Homo sapiens: one gene and its partners. The protein of the gene in region 3 purifies or fractionates together with the protein of the main gene of each other region. This does not show direct contact. Each region holds a gene or a part of one and is shown on either strand. Other genes may lie near its edges. The genes, in order: WDR19, IFT140 and PISD.

Region 1 (3,651 bases), on a different chromosome or scaffold from region 3:
GCCCACCCTATCTGTGGGTTCCTCATCCATGGATTCAGCCAACTGTAGATCAAAAATATTCAGGGGAAAAATGGATGGTTTTGTCTGTGCTAAACCTGTGCAGAAAACTTTTGTTGTCTATATTCCCCATACAGTATGACAACTATTTACATAGCATTTATATTGTATTAGGTATTATAAGTAATCTAGAGATGATTTAAAGTATAAGGGAGGGTGTACATAGTTTATACACATATTACACCATTTTATTCAGGGATTTGGCCATCTGTGGGTTTTGCTATCCGTGGGAGATCCTGGAACCAATCCCTCATGGATGTTGAGGGATGATTGTATATTTATATTTGTTGACATGCATTTTAGAGAAGCTTTTGAAATAAAGTATCCCTAGTGTAATTTACTTCAATCATGTGAGTTAATTTGTTTCTTAATACCCACTATTATCAAATACTCAGTATTATTGAAAAATTTCTAAACACAAGTACAAGTGTGTTCGTAGTTTAAATTTCTGTCATCCTGAGCAGCTTTAATTTTTTTTCCTTAACCTGAAGCTTTGTGTCTAGACTTGTGGGTTCTCCTACAAATTTGCCAGATTTTAGATCAAACCTTGGCTTTTCCAAATAACTATAGTTTTTTCAAGCCAGACCTAGGATAGGAATGGAAAAAGAAACTTTCTTTCCTGTTGTTGTTGGAGTGATGTTAGGTTGAATATGACTCAGTAAGCTAAGCCAGCTAAGGCTGCAAACAGGCTTCTACCACGGCAAATGATAATGATTCAAGTACAGACTTGGGGCAAATCTGTAAATTTTATTTTGTAGGTCAATGACGCTACCTATGAGATTCCAGATTTTTCACCAACCATTAAAGGTGTTCTTTGGGAAAACTGGCCAATGGATAAAGGTGTATTTATTGCTTATGATGATGATAAGGTGTACACTTATGTCTTTCACAAGGACACTATACAAGGTACTAAACCCCTTTTGTGTATATTCGCTGACAGATGAATTTCCCATTGCAGTAAAATTAAAACATTCTTTCTGATGTTTGTGCTGAGTATTAGCTTTCAGCATTGCGATGTCTGTTTTATAATGTAGGAGCCAAGGTTATTTTGGCTGGTAGCACCAAAGTTCCTTTTGCTCATAAACCTTTGCTGCTATATAATGGAGAGCTGACCTGCCAAACACAGAGTGGAAAAGTAAACAACATCTACCTTAGCACCCATGGCTTTCTCAGCAACTTAAAAGATACGGGGCCTGACGAACTGAGACCAATGCTGGCACAGAATTTAATGCTAAAGAGGTAGGCTTTCACACACTTCTTTTGGAACTTCTCATTTGCTTTTGTGATTTTAAAGGTCAAATCCTATAATTATTCTATCTTATTTTATTGCTTTATTCTTTATCCTTGCAAGAATTTTTTTTTTTTTTGTAAATGTAGAAGTACAAGTGCAGTTGTGCTACATGGATATAGTGCATATGGTGAAGTCTGGGCTTTTAATGTACCCATCACCAGAATAGTGAACACTGTACCCAGTGGGTAGTATTTTATCCCTCAACCCTGTCTCACCATCCCGCCTTTTGGAGTTGCCAGTATCTATTATTCCACCTGTATGTCCATGTGTACCCATTGTTTACCTCCCACTTCTAAGTGAGAACATGCAGTTTTTGACTTTGGGGCATTTCACTTAGGATAATGACCTCGAATTCCATCCATATTGCTGCAAAAGACATGATTTCATTTTTTTAATGGCTGAGTAGTATTCCATAGTGTGTATATCTATATATACACACCACTTTTTAAAATCCAGTCATCTGTTGATGGACACTTAAGTTGATTCCATGACTTTGCTATTGTGAATAGTGCTGCAGTAAACATATGAGTGCAGGTGTCTTTTTGATAAAATGTCAAATCCTATTCAATAGATGGAGATAACAGCACTTACCTTGTTCATTTCACAGGGATATTGTGAGGCTCAGATAAGATAGTCAGCTGTTTTTATTATGAGTACTTTATTACAAGAAAAGCCCTTAAGAACAAAACGGTTTCTAAGCTTCCAGAGAGCCTAGTTATTGGGAAATCCTAATAAAATAAACCTAATTATTTCAACAATATCTTGACTTCATCATAGTGAGGTTTGATTTTGCTTTGCTTATAATTTCCTTTTACTGTTTTTTTCTCTTATCTCCTAGAGCCACCGTGAATTCCTTTGACGTTCTAATTCTTCCGAGCCTCTCTTAAATGCTGCTGTTTATTGGGGTCTCATGAGTTTCCTTCTCTTCTTACTCTAATTATTCTTCCTGAGTGAATCTCCTCTGCTTAACATGGCTCAACATACCACCCATATGAAGCTGACTCTAAAATCTGTGTCTTTATCTTAAACCTGTACTTACAACTACCTTCCAGTCATGTGTCCTTGGAAGTCCATGAGCTCTTCAAACTTGCCCTTTCTAAAACTGAACTCATCAATTTCCACAGGCCCCTATTTTCCCTCACTGTAATCACACATGCACATGCCTTAACACACATATACACCAGCTCCTTTCCTCCTCCCGTGTTCCCTCATCTTTACCCAGGCCCTCACCTGGAATAATGTGTAATGTAACTAACCACTTCCTAACTGCTCTGTCTGCCAATAGCCTTGTAACGATCTCATCTGTTCTCCACACACTTTTGAAGATGTGATTTGATCCTCTTATTTCCCTGCTCAGGATCCTTCAGTGACTTTCTATTGCCTTTACAAACAAATCCATTCCTGGGGGACCTCTATGACCTACTAGGCACTTCATGATTTAACACCAGCTCAACTGTCTCCACTCAAGTCCCTCTCTGTTCCACTGGCTGCTGAAATTGCATATATTTCATGATTCTTCCTGGAATGCCCTTTCCCTGCTCTGAATGTAGTAACCCCTCTTTCTTTACCCATCAGCGATAAGTGGAGCCATCTCCTGCTCCAGGAAGCCTTCCCCGACTTCCCCACCACCACAGGCAGTCCTGCTTGGGGTCTTTCTGATGTGTTGCCTCAGAGCCAGGATGCAGTATACACAGTGGTGAAGAGCATGACACCACTTACCTCTGTGTGCCTTGGGCTAGTCTTTTGACGTCTCTAAGCCTCATTTTCCTAATCTATAAAGGAGACATAATAATAATACTTAGTGGGTAGGGTTATTAGGGTAAGAGAATTTATGCAAAAGACTTAGCACAAAGAGTTACCTATTGTAAGTACTCAGTTACCTCTGTCAAACTATGCTATAGTCATTTGTTTCCTTATCTGTCTCTTCCACCTTCCCCAATTGTGACTGCCTTAAGGACAGCAACTGTGGTTGATTTTTGTATCATGTTTCCAAGCATGTAACGAGTTCAGTAAATGTGTGTTGGATGAAAAAATGGATAGGTGAATAGATAAATGGATGAATGAATAGATAGATGGATGTAATATATTCACTCATGTAGAGGTTCCACAAAAAGTTTAATTGGCATTTATGTTCATGTTTTAAACCAGAGGTCGGAAAACCTTTTGTGTTAAGGTCCAAATGGCAAATATTTCAAGCTTTACGGGCCATAGGGTCTCTATCGCAGCTACTCAGTCTGGCTGTTGTAGCAGGAAAGTGGCCACAGACAATCCATTAAAGAGTGGGCTGGGCCGGGGACGGTGGC
Region 2 (3,651 bases), on a different chromosome or scaffold from region 3:
GGAGAAAGATGCGGTCAGGAGAATACTTACACACACGAGAACTCAGAAACCATTTCCAAGTACCATTGTTCCGGACTTAAAAAATGATCTTATAAGACATTATAAGAAAAGTCTTATAAAGGTAAAGAGTATGCTGTGTAGAAAGACTTCAAGATACTGATGCTCAAGGGTTGTGATTGGACAGGCAGCACTGGTATGTCTGTTCTGATGGGAAGAGCGTTTTCTAGAGTTTTTCTGAGTGGGACACACTTTTCTGAGTGTGACATAGGGATGTTTATGTTTTTTATAAACAGACAGGAAGTTTACATAATGGATTAAATTATCCAGCTTTCTTCTGCTGATGTGAAATGTTGGTTTCATAATTTTATATTAAACTTCTAAATCTATCTAAAAATAAATAAAGACCTATGCAAAATAGGAAAGTATAAATTCCATATAGGAAAAAACCCAGACATCAGAAACTGCTCTGAAAGGGCTCAGATGTTGGACTTAGCAAAGACTTCAAAGCAGCCACTGGAAACGTGGTGAAGGAGCTGAAGGAAACCAGCCTGGTGAAGTGAAGGAAGCTACAACGACAGTGTCTCATCAGGTAGAGAACAGGAACAGAGAGAAATCATAAGAAAGAACCAAATGCTGCAGAGAAATTAAAACATCCTCACACAAAAACGTGTACACAAGTGTTCGTAACAGCATTATTCAAATGTCCATCAACTGATGAATGGAGAAAGAAAACGTGGTCTGTTCACAGCAGAGAATGTGATTCAGCCATGAAAAGGAGCAAAGCATTGACACAGGCTACAATCTGGAGGGGCCTTGAAACCTCAGCTCAGTGGGAGCAGCCGGGCACAAAAGACCAGGTGTTGTGTGATTCCATTTCCATGAAACATCCAGAATGGGCAAATCCTTAGAGAGAGGAGGTAGATTAGTGGCTGCCAAGGGCTGGAGAGGGGAAAATAAGAGCGACCACTAAAAGGTACAGATTTTTTGTGGCGCTGAAACTGTTCTAGAATTCACTGCAGTGATGTTTGTAAAATTGTGAATATACCAAAAACCACTTTGTATATATCATGAGTTATATCTCAGTAAAGCTCTTTTTCATACAGATAGAGAGAGATGGAGAGGGAGGGATGGGTTCGTGGGTAGATACATATTATAACTAATACAGGTCCACAATCTCTTATCTGCAATTCTGAAATCCAAAAGGTCTTTTAAAATGTCTTATTATTGTTATTTTCACATAGTCTTAAGTTGAATAACTGATAAAAATAGGTTCAGAGTCATTTATGGCCTCCACTTTCTTTTTTTTTTTTTTTTTTTTTTGAGACGGAGTCTCACTCTGTCTCCCAGGCTGGAGTGCAGTGGCACAATCTCGGCTCACTGCAAGCTCCAGCTCCTGGGTTCACGACATTCTCCTGCCGCAGCCTCCTGAGTAGCTGAGGCTACAGGCGCCCGCCACCACGCCCGGCTAATTTTTTGTATTTTTTAGTAGAGACAGGGTTTCACCGTGTTAGCCAGGATGGTCTCGATCTCCTGACCTCATGATCCACCCGCCTTGGCCTCCCAAAGTGCTGGGATTACAGGCGTGAGCCACCGCGCCCGGCCATGGTCTCCACTTTCATGCAGCAGAAAATGAGTGCACCGAACACCCTTGGAGGCTGTACCTGGATTTGCGTGATGTTTCCTTGGAGCTCGGTAGGGGTCTGAAGGGCCCACCTGTCCTTGCCCTCTGCCCCGGGGCTGCCCAGGAAGTCTGGTACTTTCCTCCACATGGCTACTCGCCCTCTGTCGGTACCAGCGGCCAGAAGACCTACAGGTAGAAACAAACTGCATGTGAACAGAGTTAAAAAAAGGGAACAAAACAGCAACAAGCTCTGTTCTCTAACCCCCTTCTTCAAAGCATCAGCCCTCGCCCAGTCTGGTGCCTCTCCACCTCATCCCTGGCTGCATCTTTCTGCCCAGGTCCTTGCTGCCCTGACCTCACAGTGCCAGTGCGGGGGTGGTGGGGGATGCTGCTCTCCCAGCTTTCCTAGAGGCCAGTTGGCCTGGCTCGGGGCTGCCCCATGCTCAGCACTCAGCAGGCACTAGAGACGCGGCTCTGGCTCACCTCCTAGTCTCCTGTGCTCTGGATGTGCATATGCACACATACACACACATGCATGCACACACACACACACACACACACTTCCTGCACTGTCCTTCCCGTGGCATTTCAGGAGGGAACAGAGATCAATGAGCAGGAATCGGTTTGCTTCTTGTTAGATGGGGTCACGCTCTGTCACACAGACTGGAGTGCACTGGCACCATCTTAGGTCACTGCAGCCTCAACCTCCCAGGCTCAAGCAATCCTCCCACCTCAGCCTCCTGAGTAGATGGGACCACCGCTGTACACCATCACACCTGGCTAATTTTTGTATTTTTTGTGGAGACGGGGTCTCACTATGTAGCTCAGGCTGGTCTTGAACTCCTGGGCTCAAGTGATCCTCCCTCCTCAGCCTCCCCAAGTACTGGGATGCAGGTTGTCATGCTTCTAACCAAACCCCCTGGCCTTCATGTGGGATCACAAAGCTCTGCCGTTGCTTGCTTGCCCTTGCCCGACTATTTGAATGGCTGTGAGTTACCAAGTTACCATTGTGTGAGTAGCCTCCACGTTTCACTACCATTATTTTGCAGCCGGCGCACAATGCTTGTGGTTGGTTCTGTTTCTCTTGTGCCAGGCCAGGAAGCCTCACCTTTGACTTTACAGTAACACACACAGTTCATATTCTCTCCTTTCTCAAAGCCAAACTTCTCATCTGGACTCAGTATATAATTCTCTCCTCGTTCTATGTCCCAGAATCTACAACAGAAGAAAGCAAGCCCCATGGAGGGCCTGTGTTAGTGGCGTTTCCCTCTGAGGGGTTTTTGAACCTGTGGAGCAAACATTAAAAGTCAGGAAAAAGACATAGTTCATCAGACTCCTGATATGAAAACGAACACTGCTGTTACATTTGGGACATTTTATGTCCTGTTTCTAATGAAAGAAAGCCGTTGCCGATAGATGGTGGTTTGTATATGGCAGGAGGTCGCCAAGAGAACACAGGAATTGCAGCCCCACACAGAGCACGAGATGGCCCCGGACAGCACACTGAGCTAACGCAGCAGGCAGCAGAGACCACAACGACTGATTCTAGTTATGCCACACTCCGAAAAACCAGGCAAAGAGATTCCACGGGCAAACACCAAGGCAGGGCCACCTGGGGGTAAGGGGAGCCCCGAGGGAGTGCAGTGGGGCGGGCAGGGACTCTTGGGGTCTCTTAATGCTCAGCTCCTCAGTCTGGGAGCTGGTGAATGGGTACGTCCAGTATGAGAGCACTCAGCATCATATGTGCATTTTACATATGCTCCATTCCAACACAAAGCTGACTTAGAGGAGCCTGTTCCTCAGGGAACTCTCATCAAGGGGCACTGGAAAGGCAGACTCTCACCTGAGGGCAGCCTCCCCGACGGCCATCACGAGAAGGCTGCCTTCAATCAAAGCGATGTCTGCCCGGCGGCCGGTTTTCCCGCTCAGCTTGACCTGTGTGAGGAAACAACCGAGCAGAGGCACCGTGCTTGCTGAGACGGCCTGTCCCGGCTTCAGGAGCCTGGAGTCTCTGGTCCTCAGTGACTTCA
Region 3 (3,263 bases):
GGGTGACCAGCTGGTTCTTGAAGGAGTCACACGACGCGGCTGTGGAGTAGGAGCAGACGTGGGGGCCACCAACACAGTGAGCACCCAGCACGGAGCCCGAGTGTGGTCTGCACATGGATTCTCAGGGAGGCCCCACATGCCAGCCTCAGTTCCTTCCCCAGCATTCCCCTCCCTCCCGGTCCAGCCACACAGCAGCAGGGCTGCCTAGCCCCGCCTGTGCAGTGACCCACCTGGTGGGAAGGGCAGGTCCTCTGTGCACATACGCGGGCCCAGGAACGACTCCAGGGAGTAGGTGACCCCCTTTACCTGCTCCACCTCACAGTTCTTCACCTGCCCAAAGTTGAGGATCCTTCCATCCGATGGGCTAATCTGGAAGGGCAGGAGAGGCTTGCTGCCAGGGAGAGCAGGGTCTCCTCCCCCCAGGAGACAGCCCCCACCTCCCCTTGTCATCCTGCCCCTTCCAGATACGCTGGAGACCAGGGGGGCTGTGCTGGGGAGGCAGGAAAAAGTCCTGTTTCCTGCAGGAGGAAAGGGTCAGGCCTCACCACGCTGTGCAGGCCACAGACAGGCCGGGCCTGCGGCTTCAGCTTGCGCCGGAAGAACTCGCTGAGGTTGCGGTAGTGATGCAGGTCCTCCACAGCGGCCTCTTTCATGTTCACCCCAAACGTCCAGATGTACAGGCTGTAGACGGGCCTGCGCAGCCAGTGTGGCAGCTCCACCTGATTGAGGCGACCCCAGGCCCGTGACAGCAAGCGCGTTGGCACTGACTTGTACAAAGCCACCTGCAGGCCACAGGGCAAGGGGCTGAGTTGACCACACTGCCCCAGCTCCAGAGAGCCCAAGTAGTGTCATTAGCCCAGCTCTCACTTCAGGGGAGAATCTGCACCCCACGGAGGACACCAGGGCCCAGGTGCCCCACGCTGCTTTTGTGATGTGGCTGTTTCTCACTGGGAACCAGACTGCACCTGCCACACGGAGTGCTGGATTTACATACAACTCCAGTGGATTTCATCATTTCATGCAAAAGTCAAATAGCAACTGCTCCAGTCCCAGAACGGGAGACGCCCAGCAGTCTTACTTCTTAAAGTGGGGGTCGGAAACGGATCTGATCCTAACCACAGTGTGTGACCCTAGCCACGGTGACCCCAATATCACAGTGTGTGGAGAGGTGGTGGGCATCTTGCCCGTGGTCACTGCCCATATCCCAGACCACCAAAGGAGGAGGCTCCCAAGTGCATGGAACAAGTCTACAGCCCAAAGTGTGTCCCTCTGTCTTAACAGGAAGAAGGAGGATACCCTGAGCACCAACAGGGATTTTCAGATGCAGGTCTGCGATGTCACTGTCACCTGGGCCTGAGCTGCAGACACAGGGTCTGCAGCCCCCACAGGTCCAGCCAGCACTCTTGAGGGCCTGGATGCAGCCAGTCTGAGAAGCCCAGCCCTGCTGAGCCCCACCTTGGCCCCACGGCAGGACTTGTGTTCAACGTTCTACTGTGACTGAGCCAGGCCATAAAGCCATCTGCACCTGGGGTTCCTCCCAGGAGGCAAAGAGAAGTCATCCCCTCAGGCCCCTCTGTTCTCTCTTCCTTCAGGGAAGCCTGGAGCACCTAAGACAGACGATGGCCTGGGGACAAGCACTGGGTCCCACTAGATGGTCCCAGAGCTCTCCGGCAGGGCCAGGTACCCAGGAAGGGGCAGCCTCTTAAACTTCAGGTGCTGCTGCCACTGTAGAAGCTGCCTGTAATTGGTGGCTGCTGCTTCTCTAAACACAACCAAGACACCAACTCCCCAAGGTGTAAAACTGATTTCATTCCAACTTTCAACACCTCTCCAAGGTAAGGTAAGCTCCCAGAGAGCTGCTCTTATCCCTTCCAGCTGATGCCCAGTCACACAGAAGGGCTATGTGAGCCCAGGCCCTTCCCAGGCACAGGTGGGAGCCTGGGCTAATGTCCAGGGTGCCTCAGTGCCCCTGAGCTCTGATGACACCCATGTGACTGTCAAAGGCCCAGGAACAGGGTTTCCTCCTTGGGGTCAACCTGCCTGGGAAGCCAAGGGCAAGAGCAAGCCCTCTAGGGACCAGGAGAGGACAAGCCAGTTCCCTTGCCCATTCCTGGGGCATGCCTCTGGGTTCCTTAAGGGTGTCCTCACCCTAAGGGACCCAAACAGGATCCATCCATCCTGAACCACCCCTTTGGCATCCCGGAATTAATTTGGCTTCTGTTCAAAATCACCTATAAGCTCTTTTTTGCTTGAACACAGAAAAATCAGAGACAGACACCATTTTCTGAATCCCCAGACTGGGTTCCTTCCAGAACCAGAGCCCCAAATGGCAGACATGAGGCAGGCTAGGGGAGTGGGCAGGGCACGACATGCCCTCGCAGTCACCCGCGGCCCAGGTAGTGGCCTTCTCAAAAGCTGCCTTGGCCTTGCCCACCAATGAACCTTCCGACCCGGACCCCCTGAAGATGTAGCGGTGACCTCTGCTTCTGACAGCTCGCCACCACCTCAGTCTCTCCTGCACCCCAACCTCAGGCCTGCCCGGAAGGGAGGTCCGAGCCACAGGGGCCTGTGCACACTTACCCTGCTTACGGGCCTCCATCCCACCCGGCTGAGCGGTCTGAGGGCGCCGAAGGGCAGGAGGTAGTAGAGGACGGTCAAGGGCCAGGAGCGCAGTTTCAGAGCGGGTCTGGACATGCAGCTCAGCTGCCCCAGCCTCCGCCTCAGGGCCAGCTGGGGGAAGTGCAACCTGCAGGGCACAGGTCCATGCACAGCCAGGTCAGTGGCCAGGCTCTGGGCAGGACCCAGGAGGCTGCCACCTGCACCCAGGGCAGGATTCCTCCTGTCTACCCACCCTTGGCAAGCTGCCTCTCCATGGGGGTGATGGAGCCCAGCAAGCACTGGCTGTGCCCCCTCGTCCCAACCCCATTCTGATTCAGGGGCTTGGCTGCCTCTGGCTAGCGGACTCATTTCCCAGGCTCTCCCACCCGCCAGCCAGCTGGGGAGGACTGGGAATGTGGGGGCAGCCGCAAGAGGAGAGTCAGGCCCAGCTGCGGGGCACCTCTCAGCTGCAGCAGCTCCCAGCAAGGGCCTCCAGGCCCAAGCACCTGGGCCCAGGAAGGGGAGAGCAGGGTGTAGGGCCTGCCTCACATCCCTCAGCCTCCGCAGCCCAGGAGAGTGGGCCCCAGGGGCCAGCTCTGCCACACAGGCACTGGCACGGCAGCACATAGCGCTGAGGAGCTACGACCCAGCCAGCTGGGTAACCA

Evidence for each region.
Region 1: the proteins of PISD (region 3) and WDR19 purify together in Homo sapiens (affinity purification with mass spectrometry; one large-scale study listed by BioGRID and IntAct). This does not show direct contact.
Region 2: the proteins of PISD (region 3) and IFT140 purify together in Homo sapiens (affinity purification with mass spectrometry; one large-scale study listed by BioGRID and IntAct). This does not show direct contact.

The regions. Positions count from the first base shown.
Region 1 is NC_000004.12:39,227,395-39,231,045, forward strand, and holds part of WDR19 (WD repeat-containing protein 19), read left to right. Parts: intron 1-815; coding exon 816-963; intron 964-1,091; coding exon 1,092-1,296; intron 1,297-3,651. UniProt on the Homo sapiens protein: As component of the IFT complex A (IFT-A), a complex required for retrograde ciliary transport and entry into cilia of G protein-coupled receptors (GPCRs), it is involved in cilia function and/or assembly.
Region 2 is NC_000016.10:1,584,469-1,588,119, forward strand, and holds part of IFT140 (intraflagellar transport protein 140 homolog), read right to left. Parts: intron 3,557-3,651; coding exon 3,465-3,556; intron 2,837-3,464; coding exon 2,730-2,836; intron 2,718-2,729; exon of another isoform or gene 2,661-2,717; coding exon of another isoform or gene 2,627-2,660; intron 1,808-2,626; coding exon 1,662-1,807; intron 1-1,661. UniProt on the Homo sapiens protein: Component of the IFT complex A (IFT-A), a complex required for retrograde ciliary transport and entry into cilia of G protein-coupled receptors (GPCRs).
Region 3 is NC_000022.11:31,621,104-31,624,366, forward strand, and holds part of PISD (phosphatidylserine decarboxylase proenzyme, mitochondrial), read right to left. Parts: intron 2,747-3,263; coding exon of another isoform or gene 2,581-2,746; intron 783-2,580; coding exon 546-782; intron 429-545; exon of another isoform or gene 370-428; coding exon 231-369; intron 40-230; coding exon 1-39. UniProt on the Homo sapiens protein: Catalyzes the formation of phosphatidylethanolamine (PtdEtn) from phosphatidylserine (PtdSer). Plays a central role in phospholipid metabolism and in the interorganelle trafficking of phosphatidylserine.